7 separate regions of the Homo sapiens genome follow, and regions 1, 2, 3, 4, 6 and 7 are each reported to be linked to region 5. The links are microRNA targets in miRTarBase. Many come from high-throughput screens and were not tested one by one. Region 5 holds a microRNA gene; each other region holds the end of a gene's coding sequence. Distances are between the middles of the regions.
The links. The annotated mature microRNA hsa-miR-574-5p reads UGAGUGUGUGUGUGUGAGUGUGU and lies in region 5 at 1,224-1,246, shown strand. An mRNA with a match to its seed (bases 2 to 7 or 8) in the 3' UTR can be bound and repressed. Matches are read on the target gene's strand: a 7mer-m8 pairs with bases 2 to 8, a 7mer-A1 pairs with bases 2 to 7 and ends in A, and an 8mer does both.

Region 1 (4,000 bases), not on the chromosome of region 5:
CAATTACATAAAATAATATAGCATTCTAAATAAAAATATAAAAACATCTACATAAATAATACCACATATGATGTATAACATGATGTTAAAACTTATTGAATTAAACTAATAGTTCATTTCCAATTATTTCTCACTAATCATCTTATAGTTTGAGATATTACAATATTTTTATTATTTCTAAATATTATTACTATACTTGGTAATAAAAATAGCAATGAATAATAGCAAGTAACTGCCAGAACTGGGTCTGCTTTAGTCAAGTTAGTCCTCACAATGAAGTGAATTAGTAATCTAACTTTTTCTTAAAAATAAATATTTTACTACAGCAAAAACATAAAACATATTATAATCATAGTACCTACATGAATATCCATCGTGTTTAATGAAATCAGATCTAGTATTATAAACTGAAGCTAACTTAGGTAATTTGAATGCACAGCAAAAATAAATGTCCTAACCAGGGGGTGGAAAATTCCATAAAAGCAAAAAACTATTCCCTTAAATACAAAATTCCATTCTCATATAAATTTATTTTTGCTAAATAAATAAATTTATTTCTCATTCAAGGGTGAAAGTACCACCTATATTTAAGACCAAACAGTCTTTCTGTATTTAATAAGTGAAATATAAACATTATAATTATCAAGTTATATTGTGATTTGATATTGTTTATGGGCACTCATTTTTCAAACGTTGAAAGCACCAGGGTCTTTTGAGATTGTACTTTAGCCTGATTTGTATAAAATGCTGTGTTATGAATATGTGCGTGGTCATTAAGGAAATGAGGACTACTATCTGAAGCATCTAGCTTTGCACTTTTAAGTTTTTACTATGCATATGCTTTCTATTATTCCCCAAACCATTTGATTAGGAGGAATGGAAGTATGATAAATTGCTAGTTCAGAGAGACTCTGTAATTTGGGTTTTAAAACACTTAAAGTGTAATATTGGTTTTATGTACCTTAAAAAAAAGAGACAGATGATTAGAAAGAATAAAGGAGGTGGGATAACCAGAAGAAAGGTGATTTGTGGGAAAGTAAAAAAAGAAAACAAGAAAGAAAAGAAGAAGATAAAACAAAAAAGAAGAATGACACTTATCTAATAATTGGCCTGACTCTTCTGCATAAGAGCTTCATTTCAATATTACACAGACAGATAAAGTGAATGATGTTCATGGGCTTTTTCCTTTTAAAATAATTCCAAATTATATTCAAATAATTGAGCATAAAAGTTATAGATACATGTCAAGAGCCCCAAAACTGCAATTTTATATGTATATACTTGTCTTTTTTATTTTTATGCATACCTATGCTGATATTTCTATATAATTAATTAAGAGGAATATAAATATATTCTTGTAGACATTCATGGGGCTTTTCATTTTGTTACTACAATGCCTTCGTGCTATTGTAGTCACACACCTTCAGAAGCTGCTAGACTCATTCTCTTTTTGTGGAAAAAATTGTGATGTAAGGCTTCAGTGACTTGTGATGAATTACATTCAACACCTAATGATAATTCCTGCTATGGGCACTTTGAGGAAACCCTAGCAGAGAGCACTGACCTCGCTGCACAGTTCTGCGGGTCCTGGGTCTGTGGATCTCTGGAACTCTGCTGCCCTCTAATGGCCTACTTAGATAAGTGCCTGCCTCATAGGTCTGTTTTCTTAAGTTTCCTCCACCAATTTGATACCGGCACCATAAAAATCCAATATTCTTTGGTTTCGCTCACATATAAATGGATCTAAACTTGGTTTGTTGTCAGGTTAATTTTTCAACATAATTTTAATGTCATATGACGAAAAACTCATTCAGCATCCTCTGACTTAGTTCAAGCGTTATTGGGGCCAGTTGCTGTAAGTGGTTGGAAAATGGTAACCAAATATAAGTGACAGCTTTCACAGGATTCTGGCCATCTAAATTGGCTCCACGGCCTTTGATATTTATTGGGTTGTGTGGGTGTGTGTGGAAGCGTGTGGGTGTGTGAGGGTGTGCATGTAATTGGACTACATATTTTAAAAACAATAGCAATTTTACTTTCCAATTTCTTTATCTCATTTATTATCTTAAGATGTATGGATCCTAGATTATCTTCTCCTAATTAATCCTGTACTTCTTAGCGATCTAGTTACTTTATTTTCTCCCCCTTGCATCTTGCCTGGGAAACAGTGCATCACTGGTTACTAAGACTGAAATTCATAATTCAAGGAAAAAAAAGTAAACCGTAAGTCACATTTTAAGTCTCAATTGTATCCTGGTTTGGACTAGAGATGGTGGGATATAAGATTTATCAACATCACAGTGCATCAAACCCGTTAATAAATTACTTTCTGTGTAACAAGTAAAAGAAATCATTTCTAAAATGGAAGCACGAAAGGCATGGCATAGCTGGAGTTTAAGGTTCAAGCTTTGTATCCTCTATATATAATGTATTATGTTTTTCAAAAACTTTTTATTAGGAAAGCTATACCAGAGGCATAATCACTATACAATGATTAAACATTACCTTTACAATTTATAATCACTGAAATTACAGAATAAATATATGCACATTTCTTTTGAATCTTTGTGTGTGAGAGAGAAAACATTAAAAGTGCTTCCTACAAAGCTGTTAGTGATATATACCCAGTTGCTTTTTTTAATATTATATATATATATAAGAAAGTGCAGATGTTCTCCAAAAAATCTTGGCATCAGGATGAAGTGTCACAAAGAGGGTGCTCATCCCTAGGCGTGTGTCTTCGGCTGTTAAACCACCAGGCCTCTACTTCAGTAGAATCCAGCCTAGAATGTGACTTTTCCCAGGGTGGTAGGAGAGATGCTGTGAGCTGTACACTAGCAGTGAAGGGTGGTAGAACTATGGAGAGGAGAAAAATGGATCAAACCCGAACTAAGCAGATTGAGTTGAATGGAAATGGTATGGAGTGTGTGTGTGTGTGTGTGTGTGTGTGTGTGTGTGTGTGTGTACCTGCACCAGCAGGAAGAAACTGCAGGTTTAGGGACCATGGTCTGCAGATGGATATGTGTATGAGAGACAAGATAGTGAGTGAGAACATTCGAGCAAGACCCGCCCCCTCCCTCCCCATCTTGCAGTTTCCAGGCATGCAGCAAACTGCATTGTTAATACATGTACAGAATCTGTGCCATGATGATAAGAAAGAAAGCCACAAATGACAAATGTCAACTTGTTTCCCCCCCTTTAAATCAAAACTACAACTATAAAAAAAATAGTTACTGAAAATAAAAAGACACATTGAATTTTACTTAATTAGGATCCATACAATGATCCCCAGTATATCTTATACATGGCACAGTCAAAGTCTCAAGTTTCAGTATAAAAAAATAATGATAACATTTGCTGGCAAAAGTCTGCGAAGGCACTTTCATTGATTAATGATCTGAGTATGGCCCTTCCTCCAAATCGCATCTGAGAGGGGAGAGCATACATCTGTATTCTCTAGTTATCATGCGGTTTTAGTTTTGTTCAGGGTAGGAAAGATCGTGAGGATGGAGTTACTGGGACAAGTGTAAAGGGAGCAAGGGATATATTTCTTTTATTTTCCTTTTCTTTTGAAAAAAAAAAAGCACTAATATATTTTCTTCTCTCTGTTAGAACCTGTATGTTGTCTTCTCCAGGACTTCGAGGTAATCCGGCTTGGTTTGAAGTTTGGCCCTTAACTCGAGGTAATCACTTTTTTGGGTTTGGTGGTCTGTGAAGCCCTTTCCAGCCGAGAAGAGAAGGGTTTCTTTGAGCCTGGCATCCTGCTGTAAGTCTGGGTATTGCATGCCAGGAGGGTGCACGTGCAGTTCCTTTAATTTGGGCACTGTTCCATAGAGACAGTCCACAAATCCCACTGTGCAGGGGGCAGGCTGTGGCCTCTCTCGATCTAGTAGCATACTGCCACTACCACAGCCTCCCCCAGGAGGAAACAGCACCACCCCACCATTTTTCTCATGGTGGCGGAACCCTGCCAAGTCTCCCCCAGTTCCCCCAACTACTC
Region 2 (4,000 bases), not on the chromosome of region 5:
TCAGATATCTTCCCCCAAAATGAATTTAATAATTCCTAATGGAAGAGCAAGCAGTAAGCATTGGCCAGACGCTTTATCAAAAGTATCTGGTTCTAACCCAGGTTCATGGTTTCTTCCCATAAAACTACAAGTCAGTGAATGTAAGTCTCAGTGGTAAAATCTTGGTCAGCTTTGGTGAGTGGGTCAGCCAGTGGGGAGTCGGGGGGAGAGAGAGTGTAAAGTATACTGTGGTAGAATGAAGACATGCAGTGGATGATAATGAAACCATTCTTCCTTACAGGGTAATTATGAAAAAGAAGGTCTCGGTGCTTCCAGCCACATAACCACAAAATCAATGGCTGCTCCTCCAAGCTGTGGTCTGAGCCCACTGCTGGTCCTGGTGGTAACCGCTCTGTCCACCCTATTATCTTTAACAGAAACATCATAGCTGCATTAAAAAAATACAATATGGACATGTAAAAAGACAAAAACCAAGTTATCTGTTTCCTGTTCTCTTGTATAGCTGAAATTCCAGTTTAGGAGCTCAGTTGAGAAACAGTTCCATTCAACTGGAACATTTTTTTTTTTTCCTTTTAAGAAAGCTTCTTGTGATCCTTTGGGGCTTCTGTGAAAAACCTGATGCAGTGCTCCATCCAAACTCAGAAGGCTTTGGGATATGCTGTATTTTAAAGGGACAGTTTGTAACTTGGGCTGTAAAGCAAACTGGGGCTGTGTTTTCGATGATGATGATGATCATGATGATGATCATCATGATCATGATGATGATCATCATGATCATGATGATGATTTTAACAGTTTTACTTCTGGCCTTTCCTAGCTAGAGAAGGAGTTAATATTTCTAAGGTAACTCCCATATCTCCTTTAATGACATTGATTTCTAATGATATAAATTTCAGCCTACATTGATGCCAAGCTTTTTTGCCACAAAGAAGATTCTTACCAAGAGTGGGCTTTGTGGAAACAGCTGGTACTGATGTTCACCTTTATATATGTACTAGCATTTTCCACGCTGATGTTTATGTACTGTAAACAGTTCTGCACTCTTGTACAAAAGAAAAAACACCTGTCACATCCAAATATAGTATCTGTCTTTTCGTCAAAATAGAGAGTGGGGAATGAGTGTGCCGATTCAATACCTCAATCCCTGAACGACACTCTCCTAATCCTAAGCCTTACCTGAGTGAGAAGCCCTTTACCTAACAAAAGTCCAATATAGCTGAAATGTCGCTCTAATACTCTTTACACATATGAGGTTATATGTAGAAAAAAATTTTACTACTAAATGATTTCAACTATTGGCTTTCTATATTTTGAAAGTAATGATATTGTCTCATTTTTTTACTGATGGTTTAATACAAAATACACAGAGCTTCTTTCCCCTCATAAGTAGTGTTCGCTCTGATATGAACTTCACAAATACAGCTCATCAAAAGCAGACTCTGAGAAGCCTCGTGCTGTAGCAGAAAGTTCTGCATCATGTGACTGTGGACAGGCAGGAGGAAACAGAACAGACAAGCATTGTCTTTTGTCATTGCTCGAAGTGCAAGCGTGCATACCTGTGGAGGGAACTGGTGGCTGCTTGTAAATGTTCTGCAGCATCTCTTGACACACTTGTCATGACACAATCCAGTACCTTGGTTTTCAGGTTATCTGACAAAGGCAGCTTTGATTGGGACATGGAGGCATGGGCAGGTTCTCCTTTCTTTGGAAACACATCCATGCTGGGATGCACAGTTCTTTTCCTAAGGATTGTGTTTACTCCTGACTGCAACGTCTTGGCCACTGTTTGGAGCAGTTTGGTCTGAAGGTCATTAAGGATCTGCTTGCATCTTGTTTCATGTCCTCCGTGACAGACTGCAGACCATGTTAGAAGAGAAGGAAGGTTTGTGGATCAAGAGGGTTGACATTAGGTTTGGTGAGATGAGTTGCTTGGCACAGATCAGCAGAACAGGACCCTGGTGATAAGGCATCTGGCTTTGCTAACCACTTATCATCTTCCATTATTCTCTTTCTTAACTAAGTAGACCCGAAAGTGCACTTTTGAAGTCTGGTTTAGATGGCGAGATTCCGAATCTACAATGATCGAGTACTGGTGGCCACTTTTCTCCAACATTAAGTAAAGAGGAGGAGATTCCACCTTCAGAAAGTGCTGGGAAGCATTGGCTTTCTTCCCACATTGGTAGAAGAGATGGAGGAGGAAACCAGGGTGCACATTTCTACAGATCCCCTTTGCCTGCTGGTGTTTGCCTTGTAAGATAAGTCACTGGGGGGAAGGGGAAATCTATGAAATCCAAGATAAAGGCATAGTCTTTCAGCTCTATTGGTGTTAAAAGTATATTTGTGTCCAAATGTTAATCAACACAAATGTACAGTACTCAGTACTGACTTTTTTCACTTCAAAATGTTTTCAAGGGAAATTCAGCAGACACCCAACTGTATTTAATTAGTGAAAAGATCTATAAAGACTCTTACTTTGAATAAACACATTAAGTAAGTGTGTCAAAATATTTGGAATGCCAGTTATCTATGAGCGCATATCTCTTACAGAGTGTATTTTGTTTTCATTAAGGTATCTCTGTGTATCTACACTGGACTAATTTCATAGGGATCTGATTCTATGTGATCCACTGTAGAAAGCTACTGATTACTTCTGCAGTAACAGCAGCTCTAATTAGCATCAGATGACCAAAGCGGAAATGGGAGTTTCAGCGCTAACAAGGGCAGCCTTCATTGAAGAATGCATGGGTAGGCAATATATAAATTACATTTTGAAAAGCCTCATCTGTCACCAACAAATATCTCATTTTTCTTCAGTGATAAAAGCATATTCAAGTTACCAGCTCCTCAATTTGAAAATCAGTTGCTGATTAAATAAATAGGGGGAAGCATCTTGTTCAGGGACAACACGTTAGAGAGATTCTTATCAAAGCAAGCCAAGCAAGGTTTCCGCCATTCAGTGTGATCTTAGTTTGACACGGTGACCCTAAAACACCATCATTTGCCCCAGAACTGGAGCACAATAAGTTAAATCATTTACCTGTCTCACTTCTTCTTGGCGTGCTTAAAAGCAAAAATGATTCGCTACTTCCTGTCCTTCAGTCCGGGCATTTGGGGTGCCACTGAAGACAGGGGTTATCTGCTGAGGTTTGGGTGTCTTGCAGGAAGTATCTCATTGCAGTTGATTTTGATGAAACCAAACAGTAACTAGGGTCCATGCAGACCGTGACTCCCTGATTACATCTAGCCATGCCCTACTTATTTCAGAGAGAAAGAGAGGGGGAATAAAGGCAGTATTGCCACACTGATTAGAAGCACATTCATTCCACTTTGATGTTGAATATTTTTGACCGATACATGCTTGAGTATCTTTTTAATAGAGCACATGAAGGAAGAAGCACACAATATAGAGAAGGAATTGAGAATGCCAATTACATATTTATTTTTCCATACCTGATTTTTTTCAAGTCTGTAATAAAAAAAGTATAAGTTGAGATTAACATAGGTTATTTTTCATGAAGTATAGCAAACGATCTAGAATGTGATAGGAGTGTGGTTTCCATTTCTTTTTTTTTTTTTTTAACAGACTTTTGTGCTGTAGTAAGAATGTCTTAGAAGTTGTGTCTTCGAGTTCCTCAAACACCGGACAGGGCTCCCCCAGAGCTGCCTCAGCCTTTGATTTGGTCCATATTCAGACACTTCCTGTCTTGCATACACTCTGAGGATGGGCCGCTTCTAGCTGCCGCCCGTCTCCCTCTTGCCTTCTTGTCTCTAAATCAGACACTCCCAAGCACTCCATCTGCTATACTAGGAGAGTGGGAGAGCCAAAGCATTTTGGAGTCCATGTAAAGTGCCTGGGAAAAGAGATGTAAGAGCAGTGGGAGTTTATATAATTAGCGAATTCTTTTCTCAGAATTCAGCGGAAATGTATTTCTGTTGTTATTATTTACAAAATTGTGGCCTCAGAGGAGCTGTCTTTTGGAAAATAAGTTTTCATTCATGC
Region 3 (4,096 bases), 94 Mb from region 5:
TAACTTTAAAAAGTTAATCTTCACAAATTTCATCTTTGGTATATAAAATGTACATTTCCCATGCAAAACTAATTTATAAGAATATCAAAATTATCATTCTCAGAAAACCAAACAACAGAATGGCTGTGACTACTAGCAGTGAAAAAGTTTGACACTACATGTGTTTGGTATGAGGGTACAACTAGTTTCTAACTGTATTCTTTCTTTTACAATAATGTGTAATTCTAAACTCCAAAAGTCAACCTCTTTTTCTTAGAGTATTTTTCTTTCTTTTTCACAGCACGGAAAAGGATATGCTAGTCAATTCTACAGGACTTACCTGAAGCAGCATGATTTGCACAAAGTCGACCAACAAAAGCATCAACTTTTCAACTTCATTATCTTGGCCATCCAGTTAGTCATGTGTAACTGAGTATTAGATTTCGGATGGAGTCATCATGGCCAATTATAGGACCTAATTGCTCTCAGCAGGCCTGAGAAATGAGTTGAAATGTGCAGAACTGTAGAAACTTTAGAGGCAACAGATTTTGCCTCCCCGATCAGTGTGTGCCTGTTTACAGCACTATCTATCTTTCTCTCTCCAAATGTCACTGAGCCCTTTAGATGTTTATATTCACCACGAGAAGCCAGTCATAAAGATAAAGGAAATTTGTGCATTATAAATGCAATATCACTGTTTTAAACTTGACTGTTTTATATTATTTTTGTGTGATCAAGTGTTCCGCAAGCTATTCCAACTTTACAAGAGAAATTGTGATTATGTTCTTTTCACCTGTGGGTTATAAAAAATGTTGTATTCTGAAGACCCACAAAATATCAAAGACATTCTGTAGTTTATACACCGTGTTGCAAAGTGTTTACTGTACTATTTCAAAGCTTCTAAATAAATATAAAATATATATATTATATTATATAATTTTCCTAAAATGTGGTACAACTCAGTTGGTTTTTAAATGGATGCATACAGTCCACATCATACAATAAAATAAAAGGTAATTCAGGGTCCCAAAGACAAACTTACTAAGAAAAAATCATTAATAGTTTTCTCCCAATTTCCATATCTTACTCAACCGTGTTTTTCCTTGTTTAAAAGAAAATGATGCTCTAAGCTACAAAATTTTGTCAAAAACTCATATTGAATTTTCAATGCCAAAGATGTAGCTATTGATGTTATCAGACAGAGCACTGACTATGTACTATCAAACTATCTAACAATCTGCATAAGTCTGATTCTATTTCTATGACTTTGAATTTAGAATCACTTAAAGCTTTTATAAAGAATCGATAAATTCACCTGTATTTGTTGTTAGAAAAAAACTGGGTGTCTGTACATTTTGTGGTGTAAAATATGTAATTGAAGATTACTATTTTAAGAAGTCATCAGTCATATCACTCACACAGAATTTTATTTTACATAGTTTTGTGACTTAATTACACATGAATATAAAATCTATAATTCTATATGAATATATAGAGATATAGAAACATCTGAACTGGTAAAGAATAACTATAAAATATGAAAGCTCTAAATTTAAAATAAATTTAGAGATAGAATCATGGTACATTATTGTTTCAGTATTCCATGTGAAAATTTTATAGCTTAAATGTAGTCAGTGTTTGATTAATGAAAAAATTCTTCATGAGTCAGCCTTCAAAAGTTAAGCTTGCCTTTTACTTTTATGTCAACAATATTAATTATTAAATTTAGTAAGACGCACTTTCCTTTCTTTTATATATTTTTTCTACTGTTGTGTATGCCTTGTTAGAACACATTCGAGAGAGGAAAAAAATCAGAGAATATAAGATAATCTTTCAAGCAAAAAACAGAATTGTCACAGCTCCCCTCGCCCTCTAAACTATGATATCAAAACATCATATCAAAGCTTCAACATTATATCAAAATGTTTGCCCAGTTCAAATTAGAAACCTGTTTTGAAATACTTTCCTTAATTTTTAACTGATCTTATATTCAATGACAGTTTGAGCTGCACTGTGTTATTAAAGAATAGACTAAAACTTAACATTTGACAAATGTTCTTCATCAAATTTTATGTAACTTAAGTGGAAATTTTTCCCTAGATTTAACTTTAAAATACATATATATACACACACACACACACACACACACACACACACTTAGGTCCTGATATGTACATTTAGAGTGATATATTGGTATCACTCATTTGACTGTTATCAAATTAGATATTAATATATCATATTCCAATCAGTTCATATATCAAAATAATGTATGTAATGTTCCAGCCTTTTGAAGTCTCTTTAAACATATATGAAGCTAACAGATCATATGTAATACAAAAAGCACATAAATTCACTAAGTGCAGCAGTAACATTTTCTTAAACTTTGGCATTACTACATTAATATTTTGAATGATAGACTATTTTAGTAAGGAAATGTTTATACATAATTTAACTGGAAAAAAGTCTGTTTGTTCCAACTCTTTTTTTTAGCAAGAAAATGATTTTCTTGTTGAGTCACTCTGCTTTAATTAAAATGTTTCACGCATCATTTTGCAATCATGGGTGAATATCCACATCCATCTTCCTTACTGCATGCATTGAAAATAAGATTATACTCACTTCATGTATAGTAATTATATTGTCATTTACCTCAAAGACATTTTCTTTAATTATTTAACCTTTTATATCATTGTATATAATCTCCTTTGAACCAACTTTTTTATTATATATTTGTGTATTAGTTATTTTCATATATCCTAGGAACTAGTTATACTAACTTACATTTTAGTTATCATCAATCTACAAAACCAAAACCAGAACTTCTTCCTAATTTGCGGGACAAATAGAATTGTTTAAGGATAAAATGCTACATTATTAGGTCATTAATCAACTTATCTGTTGCATCCAAAGTAAATTAGAAGTTACAACAGAGTAAGGATATGATTCTTGTAAGTTGGTTAAAATGTTTTCTTCCAATGAGGGGGACTATAAAATGGAAAGTGCAACCAACAAATAATGAAGGTTTCTAATTAAGCATTTACTAGATTAATATATCAAGGAATTTTAGGATAGGTTTTCTCTTTAATCTGGTCATTCTAATATCCAATCTTACATAATTTTATATACATCAAAGAATAATATCCATCGTATTAGACAGTATTTCGTCAATAAATTATTTCAGAAAAAAAAATCATGTCATTTACTCCTTGTTAACATGGTTAGTTTTAGAGCAGTCAAAGTCAAAAAAAATTTCCTGTGGAAACAGTGTCTTAATGTTTCAAAGGTATGTCAAAAGACAATTTTTAGAAAATATTTCATCCACATGTAGAATTCTAATTTTTAACGTGTGAACATAGTTTGGTGAAATCATCTTAAATCAAATTTAAATATCACATCAGAATTACTTCACAGATATAATAGCGTCAATGATATATGTATCATCTTTTCTTGGCAAATATTAAGGAAATATGTGTATTTTATTTTTTAAAGATATTAAATGCACTGCCTTTATCAAACATTGCAAATTAAGAACTATAGTAGAATATTTAAATATTTTAATTTCTCATTGTTTTATTTGTTAATTGGATTGTAATTTGCCATCAGATTCTCTGTATTATAGAAGCTATCTTGCTTCTTCAATAAGAGGAGGAAAAAGAATCTCACAATTCCCAATATAATCTTTAACAACTGTACGTTAATTGTACCATTTTACCTTCTAAACATTATTTACTGGAGCTCAGTTAGTCTTTAAAACAATTACTCAGGCAGAGTGTGGCAAAAGTTCAGCAAGATCAAGAAAAGTATTTAAGTTATTGACTGATCATAGCACTGTTATTTGTCATTGCATGTGTTTTTCCCCCTCATGTTTCTATGTGTGCTATTGATACCCAAGGAACTCAAAAATACTTAAAATATTGGTATACTTGATGATTTTTCTGAAAATCTTATATTTTTCATATTACAAATTCTTGAGTTCTTTATCTTTTTCAAGTCTAATTTTGTAGTGGTAAAGGCTTTGCACTTAACATCCTTTTGTGTTCCTTTTTAACAAGGAAAAACAGAAAATAATGGAATTCCATATTTTTTACACCATGGAGTAGTAAAATTATTTTATATA
Region 4 (4,096 bases), not on the chromosome of region 5:
CCTTACCTCTGGGTCCTCTGCCCCGCCCTTCTGAGTTCCCTAGTTCTGCCCCTCACCTTGGGCTCTTTGGCCCTCCTTAGTTTCCTAGCCCCGCCCCTCACCTCTGGACTCTTTGGCCCCTCCTTTCTGGGTTTCCTAGCTCTGCCCCTCATCTCTGGGCTCTTTGGCCTCTTCCTTCTGGGTTCCCTAGCTCCGCCCCTCTCCTCTAGGCTCTCGGGCCCCTCCTTTCTGTGTTCTCTAACTCCGCCCCTCACCTCTGGGCTCTCTGCCCCACCCTTCTAGATTCCCTAGCTCCGTCCCTCTCCTCTAGGCTCTCTGCCCCTCCCTCGTGGTTCCCTGGCCCTTTTCTTACCTTCAGGTTCCAAGGCCCCGCCCCTCAGCTTTTGCATCTCTCATTCAGAAACGGGGGAGGACGCAGCGGCACCTTCTGCGCCTGCGCCACGGTCCTGGAGATGATCCGCTGCCACAACTTGGTGGACGTTTTCTTTGCTGCCAAAACCCTCCGGAACTACAAACCCAACATGGTGGAGACCATGGTGAGGGGCTGTGTCCCGTGCCCAGCCACTTCCACCTTCCTGGTCCATGCCAGGCCAGGTTCCTTAGCACCCACTCTCCCATATCTGGGCCCCACCACTGGGCCTTGGTTCTAGCCCTGTGGTCCTAAAACATTACCCCCATTTCTCCCTTCTCCCCGAGGGCGGGCCTGGGCTCGGGCTCGTGCTTGCCCTCTCACTCCCCGTTCCCCTCCCCCCACAATACTGGAGTTGGGGTCAGGCTCATGATTCCCTCCCTCTCTTCCTCTCCCCAGGATCAGTACCACTTTTGCTACGATGTGGCCCTGGAGTACTTGGAGGGGCTGGAGTCAAGATAGCGGGGCCCTGGCCTGGGGCACCCACTGCACACTCAGGGCCAGACCCACCATCCTGGACTGGCGAGGAAGATCAGTGCCTCCTGCTCTGCCCAAACACACTCCCATGGGGCAAGCACTGGAGTGGATGCTGGGCTATCTTGCTCCCCCTTCCACTGTGGGCAGGGCCTTTCGCTTGTCCCATGGGCGGGTGGTGGGCCAAGGAGGAGCTTAGCAAGTCTGCAGCCCAGCCCCACCTCCATAGGGTCCTGCAGGCCTGTGCTGAGAGGCCTGGTGCTGCCTGGCAGAGTGACAAAGGCTCAGGACGGCTGGCTCTGGGGGACTCAGGCCAAGCCCCTTGGCACCATCCTGGCTTTTGGCAGGGATGAGTGAGGCCCTGCAGAGAGCATCCCAGGCCAAGGTTCCCACTCAGCCTGCCCCCTCTGCATGTGGGTAGAGGATGTACTGGGACTTGGCATTTAGGATTCCATCTGGCCCAGCCCCTGAAGGTCCTGGGGAAGCAGGTCTCAATTCTGAATAGCCAGTGGGGCACACTGACTGTCCTCCCCAGGGGAACTGCAGCGCCCTCCTCCCCACTGCCCCCTGCAGCCCCTGAGATATTTTGCTCACTATCCCTCCCCACTTGCTTCCCTGATATGTGCTCTGAGCTTCCCTGAACCAGGATCTGCCTATTACTGCTGTGCCCCATGGGGGGCTCCTTCCCTGCCTGACCCACTGTTGCAGAATGAAGTCACCTCGCCCCCCTCTTCCTTTAATCTTCAGGCCTCACTGGCCTGTCCTGCTCAGCTTGGGCCAGTGACAATCTGCAAGGCTGAACAACAGCCCCTGGGGTTGAGGCCCCTGTGGCTCCTGGTCAGGCTGCCCGTTGTGGGGAGGGGCAGTGTTAGAGCAGGGCTGGTCATACCCTCTGGAGTTCAGAGGAAGAGGTAGGACCAGTGCTTTTTTGTTTCTTTTGTTATTTTTGGTTGGGTGGGTGGGAAGGTCTCTTTAAAATGGGGCAGGCCACACCCCCATTCCGTGCCTCAATTTCCCCATCTGTAAACTGTAGATATGACTACTGACCTACCTCGCAGGGGGCTGTGGGGAGGCATAAGCTGATGTTTGTAAAGCGCTTTGTAAATAAACGTGCTCTCTGAATGCCACAGAGCAGCCCTGTGTGTGTCTCACCAGCCTGACGGGGCCTGCTCACCTGCCCCCAGCCTCCAGTGCAGTGGGAGGGCCCTGGAGAAGCCTGGGTTCTGATCTGGTCCTGGTTTTTCCATTCGTAAAATGGTGGGAGTGTGGACCAGGACATCACTCAGGGTCCTTCCACTTTCAGAGTTGGTTCCAAGGGACCCTGGCCATTGCTGTCCCCATCCAGGCCTCTGAAGCAGTTCCTCAGGTAGGGTATATCAACTCGAGATCCCTGAGGGCCACAGAGCTGCCTCTCACTCCACTGGGGGCCCTGGATCAGGTTCAGCTCTTTCTGGGGCAGCATGGGAGGCTCAGGCTTTGGTGTCAGGCAGATGGGCCCAGCAGCTGCGAGACCCTGGGCAAGTTAGTGCCCTCTCTGGGGCCTACTTTATCATCTGTAAAGTGGGGACAGTCCTGTTTGGATCAGATGAGGTAATGATTAAGTGCCTTATGTAGTGCCAAGCGTGTTGAAAGGGCTTACTTTACAAACATCGCAGAGATGGGGGCAGAGGAGACACAGCCCTGCTGGGGATGACCGTCCCATTGCCCCAGCCCAGCCCATTCCCAGCCCCAGCCGCCTCCATGGGGTAGAGAGGGAGGAGGAGCAGGCTGGCTGGTAGGGACCTGGGTCACTCCTGACTCTGTCACAGGCTTGCTGCCTGACCTTGGACAAGACAATTCCTGTTTCTGGAACTCAGTTTCTTCATATGAAGGCTGACTCTATGATGTACTCATTCTGTTTGCACACTGGCTGACCCTCTGTGCCTCAGTTTCTCCATTGGTCAGAGGATACAACCCATTCTAATGACCTCACAATTCAGCATACTTTAATCTGAGTTAAAAATTAATTGGCCAGTTAGGATCACACTTGGATAGGGCACAGACTGACCCCCTCATCCTCATTCTGAGCTGACCTCTGAGCCTTACGCGATGCATCACAAATGTGTGTCACGGGTACTGGCCAAGCGATAGAATATGACTTGCTTTGGCCAATAGCATGGGCAGAAGTGATGGCGTGTGAGTTCTGGATCCCAGGTCTCATGAGGCCTTGCAGTTTTTGCTTTTGCTCTTCTGGAACTCTGCTATACAAGGGAAGCTGTCTCACCTACCGGATGATTTGAGGGCACACAGAGGAGAACCAGCGCGTGCCATGAACAGTCAGTAGCAACTCCCAGGCTGTGAGTGAGGCTGTCTTGAACCTTCCAGTCTAGCTGACCTGTCAGGTAAGTGTAGCCACATGGCTAAGCTTAGAAGACACTGCCCAACCAACCCCTAGAACTGGGAGAGATGATAAATGGTTTTTTTTTTTGAAGACAGTCTGTTGAAATCACTTGTTACATACACAGTTAGTTTTTGCTAACTGATACACACGCGTGCGGAGCAGTCTGGATGCGGCTCGGCCCTTTGCTCTGTTCGGTGCTGGCTCCTCAAGGGCAGGGAGTATTTCTGTGCCATCTTGTGTCCATTGCCCAGTAAGGGGCTTGTCATGGAGCTAGTGCCCTGGAAATGTTGGCACGAGGGAGGGAAGGAAGGAGAGGTTGGACTTGCCTGCCCGACTGACCAGGGGCCTTGTGTGGCCTCTCAGAGAAGCTGGGGAGGTGGGCTCTGTATTAGGAGGAGCACCAGCTCCAGAACCCATAGTCCCGCCCCCAGCTCCACAACCCACAGTCGGGTGACCTTGCACAATCCCCTAACAACCCTGCAATAAACATAACAGGACCTACCTGCAGGATTGGTTGTGAGGTCTAGGGACAAAATATTTAAAAGGAACCAGCATACTCCCTGGTGACATAATTGACCCTCAATAAAGGGCATCTCACGCCATAATACTGAAGCCCCTGGATAATGAAAATGGTGACGATCACCTTTCATCTAGTGCCTATTCCTGTGTTATGTGTCCTACACCCTTTGGCTCTTCCTTACTCCATACAGCAGCTCTTTAAAGGGGGGATTCCTACCCCTCCATTTTAGAGACAAGACATGGAGGCTCAGGGAAGTGAGTTTACTCACCCAAGGTCACCTGGCCACTATATGGCAGAGCAGGGACTTGAACCC
Region 5 (4,096 bases):
AGGGAGAGACTAGGGCTATTTTTTCTTTAACTTTGAATTTATAATTCTTCAAAAAGAAGAAGGGATGGAGTGAGAGAGGAGAAAATCTGCCTTAAACACATCGCTCAGAAAGAATCACTATTTTTAAATTGTATTTCCTCCGACTTTTATAGAAAATACAAAATTGTTTACAAAACTAGTTAATACTATAAACACTGCGCTTCCTCCGCATCTGAGTTCATATTAAGCCATATTTGAGGAAGGCCTTCATATGTGGCCTTCCCTCCATGTCAACGAATCCTCATTTTTAAGGGCTACAACATATTCGATGTCTGAAGTTACTGTAGCTTACTTCACCAATCTTACTGGGGGACATTGAGATTGTCTCCGGCTTCCCCCCGCAGAAACAACTACAACAAACATCCTTGTACATACATATTTGCCCATTTGACTGCCTACTTAGGACAAATTCACAAATGTGGAATTCCTAGGCCAAAGCTAATACATCGGAGTTTTAACCCACAGCTCCAAACTGGCCTTCTGGAAAGTGGGTTTTCGTTGTTTGTTTGGGGTTTGTTTGTTTTAAATCTATCACACTCCCACCGACAGGGCAAGGGAGTGCTGCTTAACGCAGAATCAGGAGATCAAACTTTAGCTGAATTTGAGCGACCTCTTCCCAGTGACACGGCGGGGGGTTTTCCAAGCCCTTTTAAGGAAAGGAAAGGGATCTGGCGAACCCCGAGACCCACCCGCCCTGGGCTGGAGAGGCGGCGCGCTCTGGCTTTCCGCGCTGGCACAGGGGTGGGACAAGCCAAGTTTCCAGGAGACTCGCCCAGCGCGGGCCCGGCCCTCGCAGCGTGGGGGTGGCCGGGCGTCCCCGCGGCGCTCCTCGTGGGGCGGGGCGCAGGCGGGGCGGGGCCCCCTCTCCAGCCGCCCGCCCTCCGGCCGCGTCCCCGCCGGCCCTGCAGACGTGGCGGGGCGGGACCCGCTGGGCACTCCCGCGCGTACTCGGCCGCCTGAGCGGTAAGAGCCCCGGGCACTCGGTCCCCATCCCCTTCCCCGGGGGGCGGGCGAGCGCGGGGGCGGCTGCCCGGGGGTGGTGGGAACACCATACCTTGGCGCCTCGTCCGGGACCCACGAATCCTGCCCTCTGCGTTAGTGAGAAGCAGTGGTCAGGGAGGACCCGGCTCTGGGGTGAGGGTCTGGGGCGGCGCGGCCGAGGGACCTGCGTGGGTGCGGGCGTGTGAGTGTGTGTGTGTGAGTGTGTGTCGCTCCGGGTCCACGCTCATGCACACACCCACACGCCCACACTCAGGGTCTGCCCCCTCGGCCTGCGTGAACCTCCGCGGAGCCTGCCTGGATCTCCCAAAGTATCCAGTCCTGGCACCAAGCAAGTCTGGAAAAGTGCCCCCAATGGCTCGGGGCCAAGTCAGAGGTGGGCTGCAGGGTCCCCCAGCCCGGGCACGAAGGGAGCAGGTCCCTGTAAGACAGAGGCCTCGTCCCAGGGTGCGCCTGCCCTCGGCCTTGGCACAGGGAGCTCAGGCCTTGACCTCCCCGCTCCCCTCGCCTTACTCCTCCCCCAACAGCCGACCCACGCCCTGCCTGCTCTTCCAGTCCAGCCAACACTCTAAGCAGGCACCGCCTCCACTCGCAGCCCCCGGGATGGGTCCCACTCCCTACCGCAGATCCCCAGGCCCCCTCCACCCAGTCGGCTAGCCCTCGCCTCTGCCATCCGGTGAGTATTTCCAGGCACCTCAGACCAGGCGCCTGAACGTCACTGCCTTTTCTTAAGTAGGAAGACATCTCTCTATGGGCTGTGAGAGCATTACCTATGCCCTACTGATCCCATCATTTCCCATCCTAAACATCTTGAAGGACACAGGCAGGTGGCTTCTTAAATCAGTGTGCTCTGAACTCCCTGTGACCTCAGCCAACCTGTGACAACTGAGAATGAGACAGGCTCTATCCTCAGAGCCTCTTTTTGCCCTCTCTGCAGCCTAGTGGCTCCTTCCCTACCCCACCCATAGGCCTGCGTCCCCGCCCTCCTTTCTTCCATCAAGCCTGAGCTTGGGAAAGAATCTGATAAACTTCTTACATTGTAACCTTTAAGTGAAGGAATGAGACGTTAGGGATGGATTTGAGGCACAAGTGAGACAGTGCAGAAGGAATTTGAGGGTTGGAGGGGGCTTTCTTGAATCTGAGCGATTCAGACCATAAAAGTAAACTTGTCTTTGTTTATTTGACCAGGCTTACATCAAACATGGTTTCTCTTTTATTAATATCAAACACAATGTATTTCAATTCAGTAAATATCTGAGGGACAGAAACCAACCTAGGTGCTGTTGGTCACAGTCTTGGAGGACAGAATGGCAGAAGTAAATACTCCATAAATACATGGAATAGAAATCTGTGCAAAGTGCCAAAAACATAGAAGAGGTAGCAGTTATTTCATTGGAAGCAGTGGGGCAGATTAAGGAAAAATTCAGAATGAAAGGTAACATTAGACACTGGGTGTCTAGAGGAATAGGAGTTTGCCAGGCAGCTGGAGGAAGGGCAGCACCGGGGCAGAGGAACCAGCGTAAGCAAAGGCAGGGAGATGTGAAGAGTTATGGGGAATGGAGAAAAGACTGGTGAGGCAGGAGTGGAGGATACTGAGAGTTGCAAGAGGTGGAGAGAGATTGGAGCTGGATTATGATGGGAAGTGTGAAGATATTTACACCTAATGGTTTTTGAACAGGAGAGCAAATAGGTCCAAAAATGCCTGGCAGCCTCACAGAGAATAGGCTGGAGCCTGGGTACGTAGACTTGTCAAGCTTTATACAAACTCATACAAACTGCTACAACCTGATTAAGAGCCTCTCATCCAGAGTTTTTATTCCTGGTCCTTCGCTGACTGGCACTGTTTTTGTTTTTTTTTTTTAACTGGGGGAGATGACCTCACACAGGATATCATGCTAACCAAATTTTTATGCTGCCAAGTCAGGCCATTTTTTTTAAAAAAATCCATCCACTGTCACTATTTCATAAAATGAAAGACATTTTAATACCAAGAAAAAGCACAAAGGCTAAACTTGAAAGATGAAGGCAGTCCTTTACATTTAATAAATTTAGATTTATGAAAAACTTGCAATCTTGTCCTCATTTTTCTCTATCATCACAGACTTGCCCCAGTCCTGCAGGTGGAGTTTGGAAAAAAAAGCATCCAGATCAGTTTGTCCATCCTAGCTTTACAGAGGAGCAGGTGTAAGCACAGTGAGGATCAAGTTGTGTGCCCACAAAGGGATACTGGGACCAGAGGCCACATCCCTTGACGCCTGCAGGACACAACTCTTTCCACCTCAGAATACCATCGCTCCCACCTCTCATCATTCCTCCATGCAGCCTCATGTCCTGGCCTCTCAGACACCTGTCCTGAATCACTACAGTCCATCGCTGATGCTTGGACATTTGCACATGCTCTCATCCCACCAGGCCTGAATCACCACATCAAAGACACTTTCAAGATTCTCCCTTGCACAGGGTCAGTCTAGTTCAGGCACATCTGTCCTTGATTTGCTGTGCTGTTTTGCATCACTTTTTAACTGTTTTGTGTTAGCTCCTCAAACAGATGATTGATTTCTGAAGGATAGTGACCATGTCTTCTGTTTTATACTTATTTTTGGAGCTGTGATGTTGCTGCTTAAATACCTTGCATAGTTCTGGGAGCATTTTAGGTGATGAATGAATTTACTCACGAAAAACTAACTTATTCCCAGCCCACAAAGGCTTCTTTATATGCCACCCTTCCTCTCCTTAGAGTTTCCTGAAGCAGCCTCCTTGTTTCTGTGGGTTGAGTCTCCCTAGCCTCCAGTCCACGAGACATGGCTACAGTGATCAGTGTTCCTAACCATAAATCAGGAAAGGTTTCTAAGTCTGGCTTATGGAACACCCAGACGGAGATGGAAACCGTCCCAGGAAACACAGTGCTTGTCATGACTGTAATCCTGGTGGACTCCAGCAGCCCCTGCTCAGAAACAGTTCTGTATTTCAAACACACAGTTTCTAGTGGTTTCATACAAAAGGGTATAGTCTGAAAAATGATTACATTTCCCCCATCATGATAGCATCCACAGTCGAT
Region 6 (4,093 bases), not on the chromosome of region 5:
CAAACCTAAAAAGAAAGGATGTTATAGTAAGAACTTAAAAAGTCTTCAACTGCTTTGTCAGATGCCATAGTAGTTGTTGGCAGAGCAGTTTGGACAACCATCCCATCAAAACCTGCATCTTCTGTGTTTAGTGTTTGTATCCATACGTGAACACCTGGATTTTTCATCCTGACTGTATAGTTCTTGAAAATAAGGCTACAGTGATGCCTAACATATTTGTCAGACTATTGTCTTAACAGTGTATTAACTTGGGATCTTGCTTTCTTCTGCCTTCTCCTTTAGAGTTGCTGGAATTGTGGCCGTAAAGCGAGTGAAACCTGCAGTGGCTGTAACACAGCCCGATACTGTGGCTCATTTTGCCAGCACAAAGACTGGGAGAAGCACCATCACATCTGTGGACAGACCCTGCAGGCCCAGCAGCAGGGAGACACACCTGCAGTCAGCTCCTCTGTCACGCCCAACAGCGGGGCTGGGAGCCCGATGGACACACCACCAGCAGCCACTCCGAGGTCAACCACCCCGGGAACCCCTTCCACCATAGAGACAACCCCTCGCTAGACGTGAACTCAGAACTGTCGGAGGAAAGACAACACAACCAACGCGAAACCAATTCCTCATCCTCAGATGCTCAAAGTTGTTTTTTTTGTTTGTTTGTTTATTAGATGAATTATCCTATTTCAGTACTTCAGCAAGAGAGAACCTAACTGTATCTTGAGGTGGTAGTAAAACACAGAGGGCCAGTAACGGGTCGTAATGACTTATTGTGGATAACAAAGATATCTTTTCTTTAGAGAACTGAAAAGAGAGCAGAGAATATAACATGAAATGATAGATTTGACCTCCTCCCTGTTATTTTCAAGTAGCTGGGATTTTAAACTAGATGACCTCATTAACCGATGCTTTACCAAACAGCAAACCAAGAGATTGCTAATTGCTGTTGAAAGCAAAAATGCTAATATTAAAAGTCACAATGTTCTTTATATACAATAATGGAAAAAAAAAAAAGAGGAAAACCCTCAAGGGCATGAGCATTGGATACAGCAGTAGACATTTTAACAAGAAGATGAATGGCGTCCGTGGGTTGCTAACTGAACTTTGAAGACCCGCTACAAAACGCGCAGATGTGCAGCAGATTGGAAGGAGACACAGATGTTCGGTTTTTTTCCTGTTTCTGAAAAGAAATAATAATATCCAGGTCAACAGAATGAAAAATGAAAGATGATTTGCAATGGGATGTATGAATACAGCAGCAAGAAAAAAAAATGCCATAATACAAAAGGCTCCATATATATATATATATATATATATATACACACACACACACGCACATATACACACACACACACACACACACACACACACACACACACACACACACACACACACAAGTAAGAGACTCAGCCTGCAGTTAATTAGCATTCTGGCAGTTTTGACATCAGCCAGCTGCCCTAAATAACCCTTCAACGTTTCTTCACTTTTGCAAGGTTCCACAGAGTAAGACATTGGGTCTATTCCAGCTCATTCATTTTATATTGAAAAAAATAATTTTAAAAATGGTGGCTTCAGCTCCAGCCCCTTTCCAAAATTTTTCAACCCCACCCTGTTTGGATTTTTAATTAAAAACTAGTAGTTCTCTTGGTGTTAAAACACTTCTGTCCTGTGAGGTTTCCCAATGGTGTTTTTCTTGTAAATGTGTTGGACAAATGTGAAGATGCATTGTAGTTTAACCATATGCCCACATTTAGTCTCTTTATTCCTAGTTGGTGAGAAACCTGTATCTTTCTATGCTGCTTTTATATCTGTATGTATTAGTGATATTTCTCTAGTAGTTAAAAAAAAAAAAAGGAAAAAAAGACTCTTTTTGGTTGTCCTCAAGAAAAGAAAAGAAGAAAAGCTATCTTTCGGAGCTGCTATTTCACTCTCTTATAGGATTTTTTTTTTTCCTGAAAACCAGCATGCTTCACGGAATGCTAACATATTGGTGTTTTTGTAAGAGGGATGTACATAAATGTATTTTGCACTGTCACAATGACTCCCTAGGCATGCTTTTTGTTTTTTTTTTTTTTTTTTTGAGCAAATTCTTTTTAAATATGCTAGAGCCATTTCATCAAGTTTAGCTGTAGCATAGAGTAGTCGTGGAATTTTTCTTTTTTTTTTTTTTAAATCATTATTAGGGACTTTTTTAAAAAAATAAAATAACAAGATATCCTACTTTAAAAAAAAAGGACAGTGCATGCATATTGCTGTAAGGTCGTTTAAGTATTTCTAATTTTACAAAAGTAAAAATCATTAGAGCTCCAAATGCTGAGGTGTAGATTGACAGCTTTAACACTGCTGAATGCCAGGTTATACAGTATTCTTACAAAAAGGGAAGTCAGCCAAAGACTGATCTGATGGACCAAAATCGGAATTTTGAAAAGCACCAGTACTACTTTCCAAATGATCAGCAGGTTAAACATGTTCAGCAAGGTATAGTATGAATCCATTAACCCTTCGTTGTCCAGGGTCCAGACCAGAACTACTTGTTAGTTTTGAAAACAGTAGCCCAGGATGTGGTTGTGTGCTTTAGGAAAGTCAGCAGTGCTGCAGGCTGTGTAGACAACCAAAGTTTACAAGGCTGGGAAGACACTTCTCCAAATACATATACACCAGGCATTTCTTTAAAATCAAAAACAATCCATTAGCTTTGGGGCGGGGGGTGGGGGGAGGGTTAAATGTAGGCCTTGGAAACAGTTTTAAGTGGCTTTTAAGTATCTGCATAGAGGCAATCCTAAGGTTTGCTTTAAGTCTCTTAAATCTAACATTTTTAAAAGCATTTCTTCCCTGTATTTTCATATACAAGTTGGTTTTAATTTTGTTTGGGTGGTGTTATTTTTTTTAAATGACTTTTTAGTTTAGAAAGTTCTGATGAGCAAATAAATACATCTATCTACATGTTGGAAGTCCATCTGCCAGCACACCTGCTTAAAGTGAAATGAAAGCACATAACCAGGCTCTGAATGGGTTATATTTTATCATGGTGCTCCCAGAATCCTTTGACCTCACTCTGCTTTCTAGTCTGCTTGTGACACTGGACAGTCCTTTCTTACAGAGCTATTATATGTTCTAGGCTACGAAGGGTTAAATAATCCCAAAAATGAGGTATGTCATACCCACACGTCTTTATCTCTAGAAGCTGTGATGTATGTGAAACAGCACTGTTATTCTTAACACTAGTGTGTAAAATAAGGATTAGTACAGTACGTCTCATTACTTTTTAATTCAGGGCACCCTGAGTGAAAACAAATACAAAAAAAAATCCCTAACTCTGAGCTCTATCTCTGATTCCTCTTCCTCCTTCCCCTCTTCCTCCTCTTCCTCTCCTCCTGTTTTGCTACATTCTCCTCAGTGGCAAAAAGTTTCACTCTACCTCTGACAGCATGTATATTGCACCAGTAGCTAACAAAAACTGGTCTAGTCAAACCAAATGGGCACAAAAGAACCAGGATACCAAAAGTTAAGCTCATACAGCTGCAAACCATATCACTTCTTGGTAACAATGCAGACCTCATAAACCTAAAGAAGAGAAAGAAAAGAAAACTTTTGTTACTTTCCTTTTTTGCTTGTCACTTATATACAGGCTATGTGAGAATATAATTTGTAGGTATAACACATTAAGAAAAAGTTATCTTCATTGGATAGAATTGAATGGTGGTCGCTGATAGGAATAGGGCGTCCTCTAGCTCTTATCTCTGTCTCTTACTCTTTTCTCTTTCTCTTTTTCTCTGTCATGAGACTGTGTGTGACAGGGCCACCTGTCTTTTTTTTTTCTTAAATTTTTTTTTTTTTTATGTGTAGGTGCATGTCTTGGGGATTTAAAAATTTCAAGGCTGGTTTACTTATGCAAAGCATGCCTACGTCTGGAATACTTAGGGAAAGAAAGCGACTCCATGTTGTCCGAATTCCTCAAGGGACAGAAAAAAAATTGGAGACTGTTGAAATGCAGATTTGAAGTAATTTTTTTAAAATATTATTTTGGGTTCTGCGACATTGTGAAAAATTAAAGTTGTTGTGCAATACTTAATTCAGACATGTACCACAAGTTAATGGTAGA
Region 7 (4,090 bases), not on the chromosome of region 5:
CGTCTCGCCAACCAGATCCCATTTATAATTCAGTATTTTATGCTCCGAGAGAATGGTGACTCCTTGCAGAAAGCCATGATGCAGATACTACAGGAAAAAAATCGCTATTCCTGGCTGCTTCAAGAGCAGAGTGAGACCGCTACCAAGAGAAGAATCCTTAAGGAGAGAATTTACCGGCTCACTCAGGCGCGACACGCACTCTGTCAATTCTCCAGCAAAGAGATCCACTGAAGGGCGGCGATGCCTGTGGTTGTTTTCTTGTGCGTACTCATTCATTCTAAGGGGAGTCGGTGCAGGATGCCGCTTCTGCTTTGGGGCCAAACTCTTCTGTCACTATCAGTGTCCATCTCTACTGTACTCCCTCAGCATCAGAGCATGCATCAGGGGTCCACACAGGCTCAGCTCTCTCCACCACCCAGCTCTTCCCTGACCTTCACGAAGGGATGGCTCTCCAGTCCTTGGGTCCCGTAGCACACAGTTACAGTGTCCTAAGATACTGCTATCATTCTTCGCTAATTTGTATTTGTATTCCCTTCCCCCTACAAGATTATGAGACCCCAGAGGGGGAAGGTCTGGGTCAAATTCTTCTTTTGTATGTCCAGTCTCCTGCACAGCACCTGCAGCATTGTAACTGCTTAATAAATGACATCTCACTGAACGAATGAGTGCTGTGTAAGTGATGGAGATACCTGAGGCTATTGCTCAAGCCCAGGCCTTGGACATTTAGTGACTGTTAGCCGGTCCCTTTCAGATCCAGTGGCCATGCCCCCTGCTTCCCATGGTTCACTGTCATTGTGTTTCCCAGCCTCTCCACTCCCCCGCCAGAAAGGAGCCTGAGTGATTCTCTTTTCTTCTTGTTTCCCTGATTATGATGAGCTTCCATTGTTCTGTTAAGTCTTGAAGAGGAATTTAATAAAGCAAAGAAACTTTTTAAAAACGTAGCCAGGTTCAGTGACTCATACCTGTAATCCCAGTGACTCTGGAGACTGAAGCAGAAGGATCACTTGAGCCCAGGAGTTCAAGACCAGACTGGGCAACACAGGGAGACCCTGTCTCTAAAAAAATTTGTTTGTAAGTAGCCAGACATGGTGGTGCACACCTGTAGTCCCAGCCACTCAGGTGGCTGGAGCAGGAGGATCCCTTGAGCCCAGGATTTTGAGGCTGCAGTGAGCCATGACTGCACCATGTACTACAGCCTGGGTGACAGAGTGAGAGTGAGACTCTGTCTCTGAATACACACACACACACACACACACATACACAGAGAGAGAGAGAGAGAACTTCACACCAGTGATCATCATTATGGGTAATTTTCTTTTCTTCTTCATGTTTTCCTGTATGTTTCAAATGATGAACATATAGATTCCTTAATAAAAAGGCAATAGAATAAATATCATTGCTGATTTGTTTTAAAACCCAAGTTTGAGATGGAAAGAGTGCCTCAAAAACATTCAGCTTTGTTCAGGGGTACAGACGAGAAAGATTACGTGAATTTCTTTCTTCATTTGCTGTAAAAGATGTTGGAAAAGAAAGTTCAAGTCAAAAATCACAGCTTGACCAGCATCCCCAAGAGCTCTCTTGCAGAGGTCTCTTTGATTTGTGTTCAAATGCTAGTGTATTAGTCTGCTATAGCTGCCATAACAAATATCACATGCTGGGTGGCTTAAGCTACAGAAATTTATTTCCTCCCACCTCCAGAGGCTGGAAGTGTCTGAGATCAAAGTGTTGCTAGTTTGGTTTCTCCTGAGGTTTCTCTCCTTGGCTTGCAGACTGCCACCTTCTCACCAGGCCTATGCTTGGCCTCTCTCTTTTCTCTTACAAGGATCCCAGTCCTCTTGAATCAGGTCCCCACCCTTAGGGCTTCATTTAAGCTTGATCACCTCTTTAAAGACCCTACCTCCAAATGCAGTCACATTGGGAGTTAAGGCATCAGCATATGAATTTGAGGGTGGGGGCATAATTTGTTCCATTACAGCAAGTAAGAAAATAGACATGTGCATTCTGAACACAAAACTCGAGCAATGACCAAAAACTTGGAAAAAGGTATCTCTAATTCAAAAGGCAGCAGATCTGGCCTGAAGCAAACCAGATGATCATGGAAAGGCTGACATTGATCGATTGCTTGCAATCCTCCAAACGTGGAATTTGGGAATATGTTCCAGTTATCTATTGTTGTGTAACAATCACCCCAAAACTTAATGGCTTAAAACAGCAGATGTATTCTTTCTCTGGATTCTGTGGGAAGTCTGTGTTGTTCCTCTGTGTGTCTCACCTGGGCTCACCCATGCGTCACAGTCACACAGAAGCTAGACAAGGCTGGGAGGTCCAAGGGAGCCTCACTCTTCAAACTACATTTCCATAAGGAACACTTGGGTTTCATTAGCACTGATTTCCAAAAGTAAGAATGTCAACCTAAAAGGAAGAAGCTGGCTATTTTTTTTTTTTCAGAGGGAAAATGGTGGGTAAGAAGCAGGACTAATGTGCAGTTTCCACTTGGATGGATAGAACAGCATGTGGAGACTCACATTGTGAGCTTTTTCTCCAAGAACCACCACAGGAACATACCAGGAAAACCAAAAGAATTCACAGACCCTTTGAACAAAGTGGCTTGTCACTGCAAACACTGTGAGACAGCCAAAAAACTGTGAGCACCCGAAATGTAAGAGGGGAAAGCATCTCCAAACACACATCCTCACTGGGGAACCCAAAAATCCAGATCAGAGGGGAAGGATTTAACAGTATCTAGAGCTGAAATAAATTTAGAGAGCCGAGTGAAATATAAAAGTAGTAGAAGCAGTGGGAAGAGCCCTGCAGGCACTCCTGGTCCCCAGGGAAACCCAGGGAAGCCATTTCTGACTTTAATCTCACAGGGGTCCCTGGGGAGGGCAGCCAGTGGAAGTGGGGAAGGGCCACAGGGAGGAGACTTCCAGCTGAACTTTGTAATAATGCTGACTGATCGTGAGTTTTCCTGGACAGCATCCAGGGCAGGGAGAAGGGGAAATGGGAAGTGCAGGTAGGAGCACAGAAGCCATGACGGGGAGGGGAGGGGCATGGCCTGAAAGCCCTGCTTGCTTTCTCAATAGGGAGGCTTGTAACCTGCGGCAAGATCTCAGTCCTGTGCACTACAGGCATGGATATAAAATCGGCTCTGTTGGATGTTGGGGGAGCATGGTGGGAGTGAGACTGGCCTTCTTGGCTGCATGGAAGCTGGATGAGACCTGTCACTGCCAGCTTTCCCTCACCTTCCTGGTGTCCTGTATGACACAGCAGAAGCAGACATAATCCCCCTGGGAATGTATCTCCATAAGCCTGAGAAGCACACCCCATCACTCACAGCAGCCATAACAAGCTCTGCCCAAGGAGAATCTGAGCTCAGACATGCCTAACCCTGCCCCACCTGATGGTCTTTCTCTACCTGCCCTGGTATTCAAAGACAAAAGACATAATCTCGTGGGAGCTCTACGGCCCCACCCATCACTTAAGAAACAGAAATACTTACCCAGGCAACCTTAGGGCAAGCTTGTATCCTCCCTATACTGTGGCAGCTATTGCCCTCTTTGTAGCGCCACCTCTTGGCTGGAGGCCAACCCACTCAAGCCATTACAGCAACTCATAACAGAACAACCCTGCCCCTAGAGAAAAAGAAAACAACAGCTAATTCCACTGCCTGTAATATCCTGGCTAGCCAGAGGTCCTGAATCTGTCCACATGACAACTTCACTGCTAGCATAACCAGCATTTGAGAAAACCAGCACACTAAACAAAATTACAAGCAAGGACACTCACAGAGCCCACTTCACTCCCCTGCTACCTCCACCAGGGCAGGTGCTGGTATCTGTGGCTGAGAGACCTAAAGACGTATCACATCACAGGGCTTTTTTCACACTCTCAGTACCAGCTCAGAGCCTGGTAGCTCCACTAGGTGGCTAGACCTTGAAGAGCAGTAACAATCACTGCTGTCCAGCTCTCAGGAAGTCCCATTCCTAGGAGAAGGGGGAGAGCGCCACATCAAAGGATCACCCTGTGGGACAAAAGAATCTAAACAGCAGCCCTTGAGTCCCAGATCTTTCCTCTGACATAGTCTGCCCAA

Region 1: the mRNA of SLITRK3 is a reported target of hsa-miR-574-5p. Seed matches in the 3' UTR shown: 7mer-m8 at 2,922-2,928.
Region 2: miRTarBase lists GFRA1 as a target of hsa-miR-574-5p. The part of its 3' UTR that is shown has no 7-base or 8-base seed match.
Region 3: miRTarBase lists PCDH10 as a target of hsa-miR-574-5p. The part of its 3' UTR that is shown has no 7-base or 8-base seed match.
Region 4: miRTarBase lists PTPRU as a target of hsa-miR-574-5p. Seed matches in the 3' UTR shown: 8mer at 899-906 and 7mer-m8 at 966-972.
Region 6: the mRNA of RUNX1T1 is a reported target of hsa-miR-574-5p. The part of its 3' UTR that is shown has no 7-base or 8-base seed match.
Region 7: the mRNA of MX2 is a reported target of hsa-miR-574-5p. The part of its 3' UTR that is shown has no 7-base or 8-base seed match.

Annotation. Positions count from the first base shown.
Region 1 is chr3:165,184,289-165,188,288 of GRCh38, forward strand. SLITRK3 (SLIT and NTRK like family member 3) reads right to left here. Exons shown (of 2, transcript NM_001318810.2): 2 at 2,432-4,000. The coding sequence ends at 3,609. Among named protein-coding and RNA genes, the nearest start is that of SLITRK3, 10 kb to the right of the region's middle.
Region 2 is chr10:116,060,825-116,064,824 of GRCh38, reverse strand. It overlaps GFRA1 (GDNF family receptor alpha 1), which reads left to right. Exons shown (of 11, transcript NM_005264.8): 11 at 281-4,000. The coding sequence ends at 427. Among named protein-coding and RNA genes, the nearest start is that of SNORD158, 130 kb to the left of the region's middle.
Region 3 is chr4:133,189,861-133,193,956 of GRCh38, forward strand. It overlaps PCDH10 (protocadherin 10), which reads left to right. Exons shown (of 5, transcript NM_032961.3): 5 at 281-4,096. The coding sequence ends at 300. Among named protein-coding and RNA genes, the nearest start is that of PCDH10, 43 kb to the left of the region's middle.
Region 4 is chr1:29,324,791-29,328,886 of GRCh38, forward strand. PTPRU (protein tyrosine phosphatase receptor type U) reads left to right here. Exons shown (of 30, transcript NM_133178.4): 29 at 401-536; 30 at 809-2,010. The coding sequence ends at 871. Among named protein-coding and RNA genes, the nearest start is that of LINC01756, 23 kb to the right of the region's middle. RefSeq lists an enhancer at 172-977 and a silencer at 907-1,201.
Region 5 is chr4:38,866,833-38,870,928 of GRCh38, forward strand. MIR574 (microRNA 574) reads left to right here and starts at 1,200; the gene lies at 1,200-1,295. It overlaps FAM114A1 (family with sequence similarity 114 member A1), which reads left to right and starts at 974. Exons shown (of 15, transcript NM_138389.4): 1 at 974-1,002; 2 at 1,566-1,714. It also overlaps a transcript of TLR6 not described here. RefSeq lists silencers at 738-1,217, 1,268-1,317 and an enhancer at 1,525-2,108.
Region 6 is chr8:91,956,707-91,960,799 of GRCh38, reverse strand. RUNX1T1 (RUNX1 partner transcriptional co-repressor 1) reads left to right here. Exons shown (of 12, transcript NM_175634.3): 12 at 283-4,093. The coding sequence ends at 558. Among named protein-coding and RNA genes, the nearest start is that of RUNX1T1, 140 kb to the left of the region's middle.
Region 7 is chr21:41,408,003-41,412,092 of GRCh38, forward strand. It overlaps MX2 (MX dynamin like GTPase 2), which reads left to right. Exons shown (of 14, transcript NM_002463.2): 14 at 1-1,391. The coding sequence ends at 231. Among named protein-coding and RNA genes, the nearest start is that of MX1, 16 kb to the right of the region's middle.